Regions from separate parts of the Homo sapiens genome. Here region 2 is linked to region 1. The links come from fine-mapping of genetic effects on gene expression. Tissue or cell type: nasal epithelium. Region 1 holds a variant in brackets; the other region holds the start of a gene. All regions are shown on one strand. Distances are between the middles of the regions.

The links. PIP is the estimated chance that this variant, and not a neighbour inherited with it, causes the effect.
Region 2: VWA2 starts here. The variant in region 1 is fine-mapped to the expression of VWA2 in nasal epithelium (TOPMed, PIP above 0.99).

Annotation. Positions count from the first base shown.
Region 1 is chr10:114,284,873-114,292,976 of GRCh38, forward strand. It overlaps VWA2 (von Willebrand factor A domain containing 2), which reads left to right. Exons shown (of 14, transcript NM_001272046.2): 10 at 1-98; 11 at 1,067-1,639; 12 at 4,066-4,617; 13 at 5,368-5,493; 14 at 6,346-8,104. The coding sequence ends at 6,365. It also overlaps a transcript of AFAP1L2 not described here. Among named protein-coding and RNA genes, the nearest start is that of VWA2, 50 kb to the left of the region's middle. RefSeq lists an enhancer at 724-1,335. The variant A/G (reference allele first, on the strand shown) is at 3,647.
Region 2 is chr10:114,234,898-114,243,001 of GRCh38, forward strand. It overlaps VWA2 (von Willebrand factor A domain containing 2), which reads left to right and starts at 4,357. Exons shown (of 14, transcript NM_001272046.2): 1 at 4,357-4,672. RefSeq lists an enhancer at 4,268-4,976.

The sequences.
Region 1 (8,104 bases):
CTCGCAGCCCTGCCAGAATGGAGGCACATGTGTTCCAGAAGGACTGGACGGCTACCAGTGCCTCTGCCCGCTGGCCTTTGGAGGGGAGGCTAACTGTGGTAGGTATGCACCGGCCCTGCAAGACTGACCACTGGGGAGCAAGAAGAGGACGGGCTCCCCTTTTCATTGCACGCCCTTCCAGCTGCTGGGTAGAAACTGGCCCTTGAACCATCTGCTTTCCAATGCACCACTGGTCTGCAGTTCACGTGGTGCAGCCTGTCAGTGCTCCGTGAGTAGATAATTGGGGTGGCTGAGCTCTGGATGAGACAGTGGCTCCCAGCTTATTAGCTGCAGAATGGTCACTGCTTGAAGTTTGAGTGCTGCCCAGCCCAGCTGAAGGCAGGAGTCCACCCAACTCTGGCTCCCAGTCCTGGGCAGAGTCTTTTCTTCTCTATTCTATGAAAGCAGAGCAAGGAGCCCCGATTCCTTTTGATTTTAGAGGTGTGAAATGAAGATGATAGTAGGCTTTACCTCACTGGGTGGTTGAGAGTTTTAAATAAGATTATGCAAAGTGCTTAGTACCATGCTTGACGCATATAAGGGCTTGATGAATAATAACTTTTAAAAACAAGTGATACTGGGTTAGTTGAAGATCTGTATGAAAACAATCTTGACCCTGTACCTCACAACCCTACCAGAAGTCAATTCTAGCGTGGCTATAGACCTCTGTGCAAAAGGCAAAGCAGTGAAGCCTGTAGAAGCAAACACAGGAGCATATATTTTCATGATCTTGAGGCAGACAAAGATTTCTCAGGACACACACAGGACTAACCATAATGGAAAAAAGTGATAATGTAGATGGCATTTTTCTTTAAAAAGTGGCTAGATGGAGACCCTTAGCGAGTGCCAGGAGTGCCATGTCTGGCCTTGTCTCTAACTCTGTGACGAGCACGGGTCACTTAAGCTTGGGGGGCCCACAGTTTCTCTGCACCATCTCCCTCCTGGGAGATGTTCGGCATCTCGGGTGGGACAGCTCGCATGCCGCATGACCATGGCTTGACAGTGGGTGTTGCTGTGATCCCCGCAGCCCTGAAGCTGAGCCTGGAATGCAGGGTCGACCTCCTCTTCCTGCTGGACAGCTCTGCGGGCACCACTCTGGACGGCTTCCTGCGGGCCAAAGTCTTCGTGAAGCGGTTTGTGCGGGCCGTGCTGAGCGAGGACTCTCGGGCCCGAGTGGGTGTGGCCACATACAGCAGGGAGCTGCTGGTGGCGGTGCCTGTGGGGGAGTACCAGGATGTGCCTGACCTGGTCTGGAGCCTCGATGGCATTCCCTTCCGTGGTGGCCCCACCCTGACGGGCAGTGCCTTGCGGCAGGCGGCAGAGCGTGGCTTCGGGAGCGCCACCAGGACAGGCCAGGACCGGCCACGTAGAGTGGTGGTTTTGCTCACTGAGTCACACTCCGAGGATGAGGTTGCGGGCCCAGCGCGTCACGCAAGGGCGCGAGAGCTGCTCCTGCTGGGTGTAGGCAGTGAGGCCGTGCGGGCAGAGCTGGAGGAGATCACAGGCAGCCCAAAGCATGTGATGGTCTACTCGGATCCTCAGGATCTGTTCAACCAAATCCCTGAGCTGCAGGGGAAGCTGTGCAGCCGGCAGCGGCCAGGTAAGGTCCCAGTGCCTGACCCAGGACCGCTGGTCAGTGGGCGGGTCCTTCCTCCTTTTGGCCACCACCTAACCATCATTTTCTGCCAGTGCCTCTTCTAGGGGCTGAAACCACAGCCCCACTCTTTCAGGCACCAGTCACATAAATAATTTTCAGTTTACCTGTCAACAAAATGGGACTAATAGTAGTACCTCCTGAGAGATCTTTAGTGAGAATTAGGTAAGATGGGCAGTGTACATGCTTAGTACAGAGTAAGCACTCAGCAAACTCTAGGTGTTGCTGTTATCATTCTTAATCACGATTTTATTGTTGTTGTTACTAAGAGCTCTGAATCTACTAAGCAGGCTCCAGAGCAGCAGCTTCCCAGCTCCTTTGATGGCAATCCACAGAAAAGTGTGTTCCTGGTGCACACATGCACATGTATGCACACATACACACACGGATGCATGTGCATGCACACGCGCTGGTGCAGCCACACACAACTGAAACAAACGCTTCCTGAGAGGATACTTACCCTGTCTACTTGGGATGCATTCTGACATTTTTCTCTTCTGTTCTGTTTTGCAAGCCATGAAGCTGATTTTTTATGACCCCTATTGGAAGGCACTCTAGAGAACACTGTCCCCACGCAGAGGCCTGGCCCATGGCCAGAGATGTAGTAGCTGAAACACGTCTTTTTTTTCTTTTGAGACAGGGTCTTGCTCTGTTACCCAGGCTGGAATGCAGTGGCACGATCATAGCTCACTGCAGCCTTGAACTCCTGGGCTCACGTGATCCTTCCACCTCAGCCTCCAGAATAGCCAGGACTACAGGTGCACACCACCATGCCCAGCTAATTGTTTTATTTTTTAGAGAGATGTGGTCTTGCTATGTTGCCCAGGCTGGTCTCGAACTCCTGGGCTCAAGCAATCCACCCACCTCAGCCTCCCAAAGTGGAGGGATTACAGGCTTGAGTGAAATGTAAGCCTTTATAGGGCTCCTGGAGTTCTCCCCTTGGTAGGTGGGCATGGGAAGCTACAGATGTGATTCTGCTTCTCAGCCCTGATGCCACCACTCTCCCCAAGGCGAGAGGCTTTCCCTCCTGTAAGGCGGAAGGACAGGGATTGGCTGCCCACTCCCACCCTGCCCCTCCAGGCTGGTCTAAGTGCTTTTGTTCTGCTGCTTTGTTTGGTTGGATTTTTTAAAAAAAATAATAGTTGTAGATTTATAGGAAAAAATAATTGACAATAGTGGAGAGTTCCCTATACCCCACACCCAGTTTCCCCTCCTATTAACACCTTGCATTAGTATGGCACAGTGTTATCATTAATGAACCAGTATTGATACATCATTATTTAGTGAATCCATGCTTATTTATATTTGTTTAGTTTTTACCTAATGTCTTTTTTGTGTTCCAGAATCCCATCCAGGACCCCACAGTACATGTAGTCAGCCGCCTTCCCCGTAGCTGTGATAGTTTCTCAGACGTTCCTGGTGTGGGAGTGGTTTTAAAAACCAGTAATCAGAGCATCAGCTCCTCTAACTCCATACTTAGAATTTCCAGTGGTTCCCCTTTGCACTTGGAATAAAACCCAAACTCCTTCCCCTGGCTTCTGAGAGCTCCCTGTGGCCTGGTCCCCACAGGCCTCTCTGCATCCCCTGCACAGGAGAGGCCTTCTGGCTCATACTTACTTGTCTTTCAGTTCTTAGGTGAAATGTCACCTCCCCAGAGAAGCTCTGACCCCTTCTCCCAGTCTTGTTATGTTCCCCTACTGGTCTCTCTCGAAGTCCCCTGCTTTTCCCTCCACGCTGCCGACATCATTTGTAATTCTATGTTCATTTCATGTCTGTTCCCCTAGACTGTCAGCCTGTTGACAGCAGGCATGGGCCCATTTTGTCCATACAGCATCTAATTAGTGCCCTGCATACTGGGGATGGATGAAGGCACAGGTGAAGATGTTGTCACAAAGGGTTGCCCACAAACCCAAACCCCATGGGTTACATAAGACAGGAACTTATTTCTCTCAC[A/G]TACAGTTCAGAGGTGAGTGGCCCGGGCCAGCAGGGCTTGGTCATCTTATGGCTTCCACCTTGAGGTCCAAGGTCACCATTTCTCAGCCAGCAGGAAGGGGGAGAGGGGAAGTGGAAGGTAAGCAGCTTCCAGCTGCATGAGTTTGAAATTGATCACGTCCGTCAGATAGAACTTAGACACGTGGCCACCCTAGCTGCCAGGAAGTCTGGGAAATGTGGTCTGGCAGGCACTCATCTTCCTGCTAATATTCTAGGAAAGTGCTGTTCTGTGGCTAAAAGGAAGACATAGAGGGTGTATTCTGCAGTGAACAGAGCACCCTGGCTGACCTTGGTCCTACCCAACCTGGCAGTCCCTGGGTCCCGTCGAGGGGCTCTGACTGGCACATCCACTGCTGAAGCCCCTCTGCTTGCTCCTGCAGGGTGCCGGACACAAGCCCTGGACCTCGTCTTCATGTTGGACACCTCTGCCTCAGTAGGGCCCGAGAATTTTGCTCAGATGCAGAGCTTTGTGAGAAGCTGTGCCCTCCAGTTTGAGGTGAACCCTGACGTGACACAGGTCGGCCTGGTGGTGTATGGCAGCCAGGTGCAGACTGCCTTCGGGCTGGACACCAAACCCACCCGGGCTGCGATGCTGCGGGCCATTAGCCAGGCCCCCTACCTAGGTGGGGTGGGCTCAGCCGGCACCGCCCTGCTGCACATCTATGACAAAGTGATGACCGTCCAGAGGGGTGCCCGGCCTGGTGTCCCCAAAGCTGTGGTGGTGCTCACAGGCGGGAGAGGCGCAGAGGATGCAGCCGTTCCTGCCCAGAAGCTGAGGAACAATGGCATCTCTGTCTTGGTCGTGGGCGTGGGGCCTGTCCTAAGTGAGGGTCTGCGGAGGCTTGCAGGTCCCCGGGATTCCCTGATCCACGTGGCAGCTTACGCCGACCTGCGGTACCACCAGGACGTGCTCATTGAGTGGCTGTGTGGAGGTGAGTGGGGGAATCCACACCCTCAGGGCTGCCCCCATGGCAGGCCCTCAGCCTGAGCCTTCACATACATCATGACGAGGATGGCAGCTCTTCCCAGCTACTGAGCACTTGCTTCCCAAGTGCCAGGTTCTGTGCTAAACCCCATGCTCACATAAAATCCTACAGTAGGCATAACCATCCTATTTGACATTTAAGGTACAGAAAGTTTAACTAACATAGATAACTCCCCCCAAACTTGAGAATTTATGCATTCCCTTTAAACAGAACACACTTTTAGAATATCCACAAGCTTCCTAAGGGTCTAAAGATCCCACATTCACACTGACTTGGGCAGTGACAGAGCCCAGAGCAAACAGGGCCAGGCCAGCCCAAATCCAGTGACCTCCTCTTCACCTTCTTAAAAGAGACAGGAGAATCACTTGAACCCGGGAGGTGGAGGTTGTGGTGAGCCAAGATCGCGCCATTGTACTCCAGCCTGGGCAACAAGAGCAAGATTCTGCCTCAAAAAAAAAAAAAAAAAAGTCTGCCATGTGTATGGCACGTCTGAGCAATGGACTCTCCATGAGTCTGTAGGAGAGCTGGGTCTTACTAACCTAGCCAAGTGGTATGCAGCACCAACCATGAGCTACCGGGGCAAAGGGAGACATGACTCTAGTAGCCTTGCACCTCTACTGGGCTTACTTAGGGTAGGGGTCTTCGGGTCTAACCCATGCCTGGCCGGCCTGGTGGGTATGGTGTTCTCCATTGTAGAAGCCAAGCAGCCAGTCAACCTCTGCAAACCCAGCCCGTGCATGAATGAGGGCAGCTGCGTCCTGCAGAATGGGAGCTACCGCTGCAAGTGTCGGGATGGCTGGGAGGGCCCCCACTGCGAGAACCGTGAGTGGAGCTCTTGCTCTGTATGTGTGAGCCAGGGATGGTATTGCGAGTCCTGCCAAGTCCCACAAACTCAGCTGAAGGCAGGTTCTAAAACATTCGTTCAGTGGAAGAAATTATTCAGTCGTTTACCCACGAAACATTTAGTGAGTACCTCCTGCATCCCAGGCATTGTTCTCAGTGCAGGAACATAGCAGTAAACAAATGAATAAAACCTCTGCCCTCATGGAGCTTCCATTCTAATGGGAAGACAGACAATAAGCAAATAATACAACATGTGGTGTGGTAGACGGTGCTAAGCACCCCGGAGAAAGTCATGACAACTAGGAGGGAGGCCACAGTTAGGAGCACAGTAGATCCAGGGTACAGGGATGTAGACGGAGGCAGGGATGGGTAAATGCGGTGGTGGGAGCTGCTGGAAGCTCTTTTTGGGGTGCTATTTGCTCAGTAAAATGGGAGGAACAGCTAAGTGAGGACGAGGAGGAGGTGCTAGAGGTTTGAGAGAAAAGAAGTCATTGTCAAGGGTAACAGATTAGGACCTAGAGAGTGATCGTTGGGAGGCATTAGAGGTCCAACTATGGCTCCTGTTCATGAGTTTGAAGTTAGAACAGCCAGAAATCAGAAGACAAGTCCAGTCGGAGCCTTGGTTTTTTGGCCACGGGCAGAGGTTGGCTTCCTAAGGCCAGAGAGAAGCTCTGGAGGATAATCACATGGGGTCTCTAATCTGGCATCTTCTGCTGGGGGCGAGGTGGGTTGTAGAGTAAGAGCAGGACCTGAAGGGGTCCTCAGAGGCTGCTGGAGGGCTGAGAAGGGGATGCAGACACTCCTGTCCTCAGACTTCACTTCCTTCCCCAGGATTCTTGAGACGCCCCTGAGGCACATGGCTCCCGTGCAGGAGGGCAGCAGCCGTACCCCTCCCAGCAACTACAGAGAAGGCCTGGGCACTGAAATGGTGCCTACCTTCTGGAATGTCTGTGCCCCAGGTCCTTAGAATGTCTGCTTCCCGCCGTGGCCAGGACCACTATTCTCACTGAGGGAGGAGGATGTCCCAACTGCAGCCATGCTGCTTAGAGACAAGAAAGCAGCTGATGTCACCCACAAACGATGTTGTTGAAAAGTTTTGATGTGTAAGTAAATACCCACTTTCTGTACCTGCTGTGCCTTGTTGAGGCTATGTCATCTGCCACCTTTCCCTTGAGGATAAACAAGGGGTCCTGAAGACTTAAATTTAGCGGCCTGACGTTCCTTTGCACACAATCAATGCTCGCCAGAATGTTGTTGACACAGTAATGCCCAGCAGAGGCCTTTACTAGAGCATCCTTTGGACGGCGAAGGCCACGGCCTTTCAAGATGGAAAGCAGCAGCTTTTCCACTTCCCCAGAGACATTCTGGATGCATTTGCATTGAGTCTGAAAGGGGGCTTGAGGGACGTTTGTGACTTCTGGCGACTGCCTTTTGTGTGTGGAAGAGACTTGGAAAGGTCTCAGACTGAAATGTGACCAATTAACCAGCTTGTTTGATGATGGGGGAGGGGCTGAGTGTGCAATGGGCCCAGGTCTGGAGGGGCCACGTAAAATCGTTCTGAGTCGTGAGCAGTGTCCACCTGAAGGGTCTTCCTTTCAAAAGAGGCTGCGGCCAGAGACTGTGGCTCATGCCTGTAATCCCAGCACTTTGGAGGCTGAGGCAGGTGGATCACCCGAGGTCAGGAGTTTGAGACCAGCCTGGCCAACGTGGTGAAAGTTTGTCTTTACTAAAAATACAAAAGGTAGCCGGGGGTGGTGGTGGATGCCTATAATCCCAGCTACTCGGGAGGCTGAGACAGGAGAATGGCTTGAACCTGGGAGGCGGAAGTTACAGTGAGCCGAGATCTCACCACTGCACTCCAGCCTGGGCAACAAGAGTAAAAATCTGTCTCAAAAAGAAAAAAATGTACTTAGGAGGGGTTAATTGTGGCGTGTTTATGGAATTCTTTCCTTATTCTCCTTTTAGTGGGGCAAAGAGAAGTAAGATTCTTAAACTCAAAAATATAGGATAAAGAAACTTACAGAGATTTTGCTTTTTAAAGCATTGATCTTACGCTGTCTAGGTTTTAATTTTGTTTTGCTTTGCTTTTCTACACAGTTTTTAAAGAAATATTTCAAGAAATGTTGGTTATTTATTAAACAGGGATATTTGTACCTATGTGGCAAAGAGGCATATTTGGAATATTCTCTGGCAAACTAGATACTTACTTCCCTATCGCTGCAGTATTTAGGAATTACTTCTTCTCCTTGGTTGTGTTGTTTAGAGTTGGATTTTCTGTAGAAATCTTTCTAGAGCTCTGATGTGACTCCAGACACTTTATCGTTTTTCTTTTTTTTGAGACGGAGTTTTGCTCTTGTTGCCCAGGCTAGAGTGCAGTGGTACAATCTTGGCTCACTGCAACCTTTGCCTCCCAGGTTGAAGTGATTCTCATGCCTCAGCCTCTTGAGTAGCTGGGATTAGAGGCAGGTGCCACCATGCCTAGCTAATTTTTGTATTTTTAGTTAGAGACAGGGTTTCACCATGTTGGCCAGGCTAGTCTCGAACTTCTGACCTCAGGTGATCCCCCTGCCTTGGCCTCCCAAAGTTCTGG
Region 2 (8,104 bases), 50 kb before region 1:
GTCAGGCTCTTTGTTTCCTCTAGGATGGTTTCTTTGCTGTTTAGTAGGTACTGTTTCGTGTTCTTTTATTTCTCAATAAGAGGGCTCTGGTTAGTGGCTGCTATGTGGCTTCTGGAAAATATACAACTCTTGGAGCTCTATTAAGCATCCTCCTTTTTGTCTGTTCCTTTCGTGTGTGCTTTACCTTTCATCATTTGAGGGACTGGATCAAAATATTAGTTGGGATTCTAGAGTTAGGAACTGTTGTACCCATCACCCTTTATAGGTCAGGAAACTGAGCAATCAAAAGTTAAGTTTCTTTTCTGTGTTACAAAGCCAGTAGGCAGGAGCCCCCTAATCTGAAGCCACAGTCACTTTACTACAATGGGTGCCTCTGGGTGATGCATGTCACCGAGTACGGATGTCTCCATTTATCCCTGAGTGAAATTCAGTCACCTCTGTGTTTACACTCTCAGTTTACACTAAGACTCTGTGTTTATACCTCTTGTGTTTACAACTGAGACACACGGGACAGCGCAACTTGAGAATTAACATCATAGAAGGTGTCAACTGAAGAATGAGAAAGTTCATGAATTTGGAAAGGAGAGCTTTATTTTTCATAAAGCGTGGCCACTGGCAGGGTAGCCATTGCTACAGTCTGGAAAGTGTAGCCTCCAGCCAGAAACCAGAAACACACTTCCAGGTTGGGAAAAATAAGACAGGAATTTATGCTGAGTGGAGTGGCCAAATACACAGTAAACTATAGGAGGAGTCATGAATATTTATGAAAGATGTACATGTGCAATTAAGCTTCATGACTCTTGATGGGTTACATGTACAAAAAAATGGTATTAGCATGATTCTGGGGTGGAGTTTTTGGCCCTCTTGGGTCAAAAGGTGAAGCAGAGGACACAACTCTCATGGTACATCTTCTATAGACTAGCCAGAGCCACTCCATGGTCCATTGTCTCTTAGGAAGGAATGCTGGTTGCTTGGTTTGTTGAAACCTTAAAAGGAAGGGGCAGCATCAAGTGGTTGGTTCATATCAATAGTAGAGGCCAGGTGCAGTGGCTCACACCTGCAGTCCCAGCACTGTGAGGATTCCTTGAGTTTGAGGAGTTCAAGACCAGCTTGGGCAACAGAGCAACACCTCATCTCTACCCAGAACAAAAAAACCACCAGTGCAATGGTACGTGGCTGTAATCCCAGCTACTCTGGAGGCTGAGGTAAGAGGACTGCTTGAGCCCAGGAGGTCAAGGCTGTGGTGAGCTATGATTGTGCCACTATACTTCAGCCTGGGGGATACAGTGAGACCCTCAAAGATAGCAGGGGTGGAGCAAGTCTTTCCCAAAGGGCTGGTTTCTGTTTAACCCTTAAGAAAGAAGGCTGGGTACTGTGGCTCATGCCTGTGACCCCAGCACTTTGGGAGGGTGAGATGGACAGATTGCTTGAGCCCAGGAGCTCAAGACCAGCCTGGGCAACACAAGGAAACCTCATCTCTACCAAAAAAAAAAAAAAAAAAAAAAAAAACCTGGTGTGGTGGCACGTACCTGTAGTTCTAACTACTCGGGAGGCTGAGATGGGAGGATTAATGGAGCCCAGGAGGTCGAGGCAGGTCTTGAGCCAAGGTCACACCACTGTACTCCAGGCTGGGCAACAGAGCAAGCCCCTTTCTCCAAAAAAAAAAAAAAAACTAATGGCTGATAGTGAAGGAGCAGGTATAACAAGCTGTTTCCCGTCTCCCTTCCAGTCATATATGGGAACTCCGCTTTTAAGATTTCTCTGGATAATTTAAGGTCAGGAGTTCGAGACCACCCTGGCCAACATGGTGAAACCCCATCTTTACTAAAAATACGAAAATTAGCCGGGCCTGGTGGTGGGCGCCTGTAATCCCAGTCACTTGGGAGGCTGAGGCATGAAAATCGTTTGAACCTGGGAGGCGGAGGTTGCAGTAAGCTGAGATCCAGCCACTGCACTCCAGCCTGGGCAGTAAAGCGAGACTCAGTCTCAAAAATATTTCTCTGGGGTCCCCTTGGACAAGAGGGGGTCCTTTCAGTCAGTGGAGGACATGGGGTTTTATTTCTGAGGGCATTTACTGTGTGCAAGTTACCAGGCATTGGGCTGCAAAGATGAATAAGGCAAGCTCCTGGGAAGCAAGAAGCTTACATGCCCCTTAGAATGATTGTAATTCATAATAACTTTATTTTTTAAATCCTTGTAAATCTTCACAAAGGAAGGGATGTCATGGATGACAAAAGTAGCTACCCAGCTTTCTGCATAAAAAGCCTCCACCCCTGCTGGTCACCCACTCAGCACTCAGCACTCACCAGGGCCTGCACCACCTGCCTTCCCTCCTGCCCAAGTGCACACCCCGGACAGACTGATTATACATTGATGTGAAGAAGTCTGAAGCAACAGGTATCTTCACTGTATTTATGCTTTCAGTTCTTCATAATCACAGAATGAAAATGTGAAATACCTCCCCCCCCCCCGCCCCCAATTAAAGACATGCCAAATACTTCAGGAACAACCAGGATTGAAATTTGGCTTCTCCAAGGTAAGCCTGATAAGGTCAAAGTATGCTGGTACCTGTTAAACAGCATAAGGGGTACAGGGAGAGGGTTGTCAAAGGTAGAATTTCCACTTTCTTGAGGACCTGGGGTCTGCCCTTGTTGGACATCTCTGGAGCAGCACAGGCCACTCACCCCATTTGACTATACAGCACTTAAAAATGTGGCGAGTCCAAATTGAGATGTGCTTGTGAGTATAGAATACAACAGGATTGGCCAGGCGTGGTGGCTCACGCCTATGATCCCAGCATTTTGGGAGGCTGAGGCGGGTGGATTACCTGAGGTCAGGAGTTTGAGACCAGCCTGGCCAACATGGCAAAACCCTGTCTTTACTAAAAATACAAAAATTAGCCGGGCATGGTGGTGTGCACCTGTGATCCCAGCTACTCGGGAGGCTGAGGCAGGAGAACCATTTGAACCTGGGAGGCAGAGGTTGCAGTGAGCCAAGATCATGCCATTGCACTCCAGCCTGGGCAACAGAGTGAGACTCTGTCTCAAACAAAAAAAAAAAAAAAAAAAACAAAAAAACAGGACTTTGAAGACAGCATAAAACATCTTTATTGATTACATGTTGAGATAATGTTCCGGATGTTTAGGTTAATACTGAAATCCAGCTTGCTGTTTCTTTTCACTTTTTATTAAATGTGACCACTAGAACATTTAAAATTACACACGTGGCTTGGTCAGTATTTCTCTGGGGCAATGCTGATCTAGAGGCAGAGACCATCCCTCCCCAGCAGTTAGACCTCAAGACTAACTGCTGTCCCCTGTGGGGATGATGTGGTGGTACATTATGTCTGCTGCTCTGGTGTGGCCCTGTTTTTATTTTTGGGTGCTCAGTAAATGTTACTGGGAGAAATGAATTACAGGAAAAATGAGTCCTTTCCTAGCCTCCTTCAATGAGGTTTGCAACATTAAAGTCACCACGGGCCACTTTCACTGGAAGCTGTCAGTGTCGGAGGTTTGGAAATTAACTGAGAACTACAGACAGGAAAGGTGTAAAGCAAATTATTTTCCTATCAGATTGACATTTACAAGAATAATGGGAAGGAGCATGGAAAAGAGGAAGCAGGTCAACCTTCCTTGAGGACAATTAGATAATAGGCATCAAAAGTCTTAAGTTGTATAAAACCTGTATCCTAGAAATTTACCTTTTCGTAGTTTATTCTAAGGAATTAATTGGACAAAAGCACAAAGACATCTAATTGTATTATTAAAATGGAAAGTTTAATATTCAACAATAGCAGATAGGTTAAGTACATTAGGACATTATGAAGTGGCTTAAAACGGACATTCAAAAAAAGGAAATGGAAAACCTGAGTAATGTACAGCTTGTATGGAATGAACTAAAAATATATAAATTTTTGCATAGGTAGAATGACATTGGAAGAACATACACCACAATGTTAACTGATTATCTCTGGGTGTTGGAAAATGATTGATTTATCAACTTTTTTACTGTTATTTCTTTTCTTTTTTTTTTTTTTGCAATGAACAGGCATGCTCTGGCAGTTTTTAAATGAAGTATGGAAATTATGGATTGTGCAGTCATAGTCAACGTTCATTGAGAGCTTACTTTATATAAAGCATCATGCTCAGCATTGTGCTTTGTGGCATTTGATTTTTTAAAAATCAAACGCCCTCCAATCTTAAGCAAGGATGATGGCCAAAAGGTCGGCTTATTACCCAACTGCAACAATAGGAGGGACAGGTAATTAAAAGGCAATTGCCATGACAAATAGAAAAGATGCCAAAGTCAACATTTTTTCAAGGAGCTATAAAGCCCGTGGAGGAGTCAGCTGACGGCACAGTGTTCGCGGCTGCACCGCTCGGAGGCTGGGTGACCCGCGTAGAAGTGAAGTACTTTTTTATTTGCAGACCTGGGCCGATGCCGCTTTAAAAAACGCGAGGGGCTCTATGCACCTCCCTGGCGGTAGTTCCTCCGACCTCAGCCGGGTCGGGTCGTGCCGCCCTCTCCCAGGAGAGACAAACAGGTGTCCCACGTGGCAGCCGCGCCCCGGGCGCCCCTCCTGTGATCCCGTAGCGCCCCCTGGCCCGAGCCGCGCCCGGGTCTGTGAGTAGAGCCGCCCGGGCACCGAGCGCTGGTCGCCGCTCTCCTTCCGGTGAGTCCCAGCCCCGAGTTGGCTCTGGCGCCCGGGTACCCGCCAGTGCCGGCTGCCGATGACCGATTCACGCTCCCGGTACTGGGGCCCCCTCTGCCCAGCCACCCCTACCCAGAGCACCCGGGCTGCGCGGCCCCGCCGAGGGTGCGGGCTTTGTTCGCATTGTCTGCGCGCACCTGAGCGCGGCCTTCCTGGCACGGCGGCGTCGGGGGAAGAGCGCACCTGGCGCGCGCCTCCCTCGTGGCCACTCGCGGTCCGTCCCGGGCGAGCTGGCGGGGTTTTGGGAGGGGTGCGGTCAGCAGGTAAGTGGGTAGGGGCTCCGGGTACAGGGGTGGAGGAGGGCATGTATTAAACCCAAGCTGCCCTCCTGGCACAGTAGCGGGGCCCCCTTCCCTGGCGGCCGCGGAAAGGGACTCGCCCTTTGAATAAAGGCTTTGGTGACATGCTCGCTTCCACCCCACACCCCACTACAGGACATACACAGGTGTTAAGGGGACTTGGGGCAGTTTTCCCAGGCAGAACGAGTGCCCCCAGCGAAGTGTCTGCAAGCAGAACCTGAGAGGGGCCGGCTGCCCCGAGAGTCCTCGCGCTTGGGCAGTGGGAAGTCCAGGGGTTTGTCGTTCTGGTGACTTCCCCCACCTGGCTCAGCCCTGCTTCCTGCATGTCTCCTTCCCTTCCAATAAGGCTAACAAAACTTTCCCTAGCTAAGCCGACCTTTCCCTCCCGCCTTGGGCCCTTGGCCACCTGCTGGGACGGTGAATGGGAGAGTCTCAGAATTGAACCTTGAAAACTTGCTGGGGGCACCAGACAGAAGAGAAGGGAGGAGGGCACCTTGCTGCTTGTGATTGTGGAATCAAGGGCTCCAGCTGAAGCTGAAAGGGGACTTAGCAATGGGGACCTCATGCCATGTGTTTGATGTCTTGGAGATTGGAATAATTAGAACGTGTACATTTTTCAAATTACAAGCTGCTTTAAGTAAAACCCCAGAACCTCTAAGTGTTTTATAAATTCAGTCCCAAAAATTCAAGGTCTCTTTTGCTGTTAAGGTGACACTATATTAAGAAATGTCGATTTATTGAAGAGTCAGAGAAGTGAAGAGGTCAGAAAGGTACCACTAGAGTTGGCAAAAGCCACAGGCATGAATTTGTAAATGCTGCTGGCTTTCAGCAGGCTGAAGCCATCCTCTCTTGTGACTGATGGGGGTTCAGAGCTCCTCAGGCCTTACTCTTCTTTTGTAAAATCCAGCCCAGAGCCATCTCCTAGTAGTGTAAGAATTTCTCAGACTAGGTCCCCAGGCAAATCCCAGGTTGGAGAAGAGGATTGCTTTCCTCATCATCTCTGGCTGAAAACCATCAGTGTATTTTCATTAAATCTGGTTTTTGGTCTACCGTACAGAGATTACAGCCAGTATTTCCCCTCTCTTCAATAGGCACAAGCCCCTGGGATATCCGAATCATAGTCAGAAGCCCATGTTTTTACAGATGAGGAAACTGAGACCCAGTTTTAGAGTGTTAGGTTCAAAGCAAAATTGAGCAGAAGGTACAGGTTTCCCATATACCTCCTGTCCCCGCCTATGCACAGACTCCCCCATTGTCAGCATCCCCCACTGCAGTGGTACATTTGTTCCAACTGATGAACCGACACTGGCACATCATTATGACCCAAAGTTCACAGTTTGCCCTGGGGTTTGCTCCTGTTGTACATTCTATGGCTTTGGACAAATGTAAAATGACATAAATCTGCCATTATAGTATCAAACAGCATAGTTTCACTACCGTAAAAATCTTCTGTGCATCCCACCCTCCCTACAACACATGGTAATCACTGATCTTTCTACTGTCTCAATAGTTTTACCTTTTCCAGAATGTCTTATGATTGGAATCATGTAGTACGTAGCTTTCTCAGATTGGTGTCTTTCGCTCGGTAATATACACTGACATTTCCCCTCCTGGCTTTTTAATGAGCATCATAAAAACAGAATAGTTATTTGGCAGTGACGGCATCATAAGCTTGTGGTGAAAATGCCTTTTTTGTTAATAACTCCCCTGATGTGTGTGCATCTTACAAAGCATTGTCCTCACATCCTCAGTACCTGGAAGGGTACCGGGCACAGGGCAGATGCTTAATAATTTTTACTGGGTAAATGAAATTTCATGTAATTATAGCAATGAGAGGGTCAGCAACACTACGAGGTTGTTTTAGAACAGTGGTCCTCAAACTTTTGCAGTGCATATATCAGTAAATGAAAACCTAGTTTAATTGGGAGGCCTGCAATAGAATTGCTCATTTTTAATTTTATCCAATAAGGCTATTTTAAAACAAATCCCACCCCCCTCCCTATCATCAAGGAGGCTATTGGAAGTCTGTTGGTGATTGTGTGTGTGCATTCCCTGCAAAATGTTTCTGTATAACCCCAAGGCAGCACAGTGGGACAGCTGAATGTATTTGAAGTCCCTTCCTTTGTGTGACCTTTCGTCTTCTAAACAGCTCTGGACTGCTTAATTTTCCTCTTCCACCTACCACATTAGCTGCTGACTTTCCTTGAATGTGATTACTACCCTCGGTCCTCCCCTTCCTTTTCCTGATCATGAGTCTCTTCTCTTGAACTAGATTTCCCTGGTCTCAAATTAGGAAACTTTGCCCTTGCCCCGGGAGCCTTTGCATCGTGGTTTCATGGGGTCCTGGCGACAACCTTTCCAGGGAAATAGGATGGATGGTGTTACCTCCGTTTTAGAGAGAAGGAAATTGAGAGACTGAAGTGGAGGAATTTACCCAGGAGGCTCATGCTCAGGTATCCTGCCATCAGATGGTTGCTCTTTCCAGAGCATCTGTGTACCGCATGCCTCATAGTACCAGGTGCATCTGCATGCCGATGCCTCTGTGTACCACGTGCCTCTGTGTACCAGTGCCTCTGCATACCGCAGTGCCCCTGTGTACCAGTAAATCTGTGTATCAGTGCCTCTGCATACCAGTGCATCTGTGTACTGTGTGCCTCTGCGTACTGGTGCCTCTGTGTACCGCATGTCTCTGTGTACCACGTGCCTCTGTGTACCAGTGCATCTGTGTACCGCGTACTTCTGGTCATAGCTGAGAAGTCCTGGGCTGGACTCTAAGCTGGGTTTTTCTCGCTCTGTGGCCTTGGGTCTCGTCTTCTCCAAGATCATTTCTTCATCTATAAAGATGTAAATGATAATATCTACCCTACAGATTATGGGTGTTGTTAAATGAAATGAATATATTAAATGTAATGATAAACTTTTAACATCATTCATTTAGAAAACATTTTACTATTTAGCAGAGACTTTTCTACCCTGTCTCACTGGATCTTTACAACACTGGGGGAGTTTATGAAACAGATTCTCCCCATTTGGCAGATGAGGAACTAAGGCAGGGGAGGTTGTTGCTTGCAGTCACCCAGCTGCTAGGAGCAGA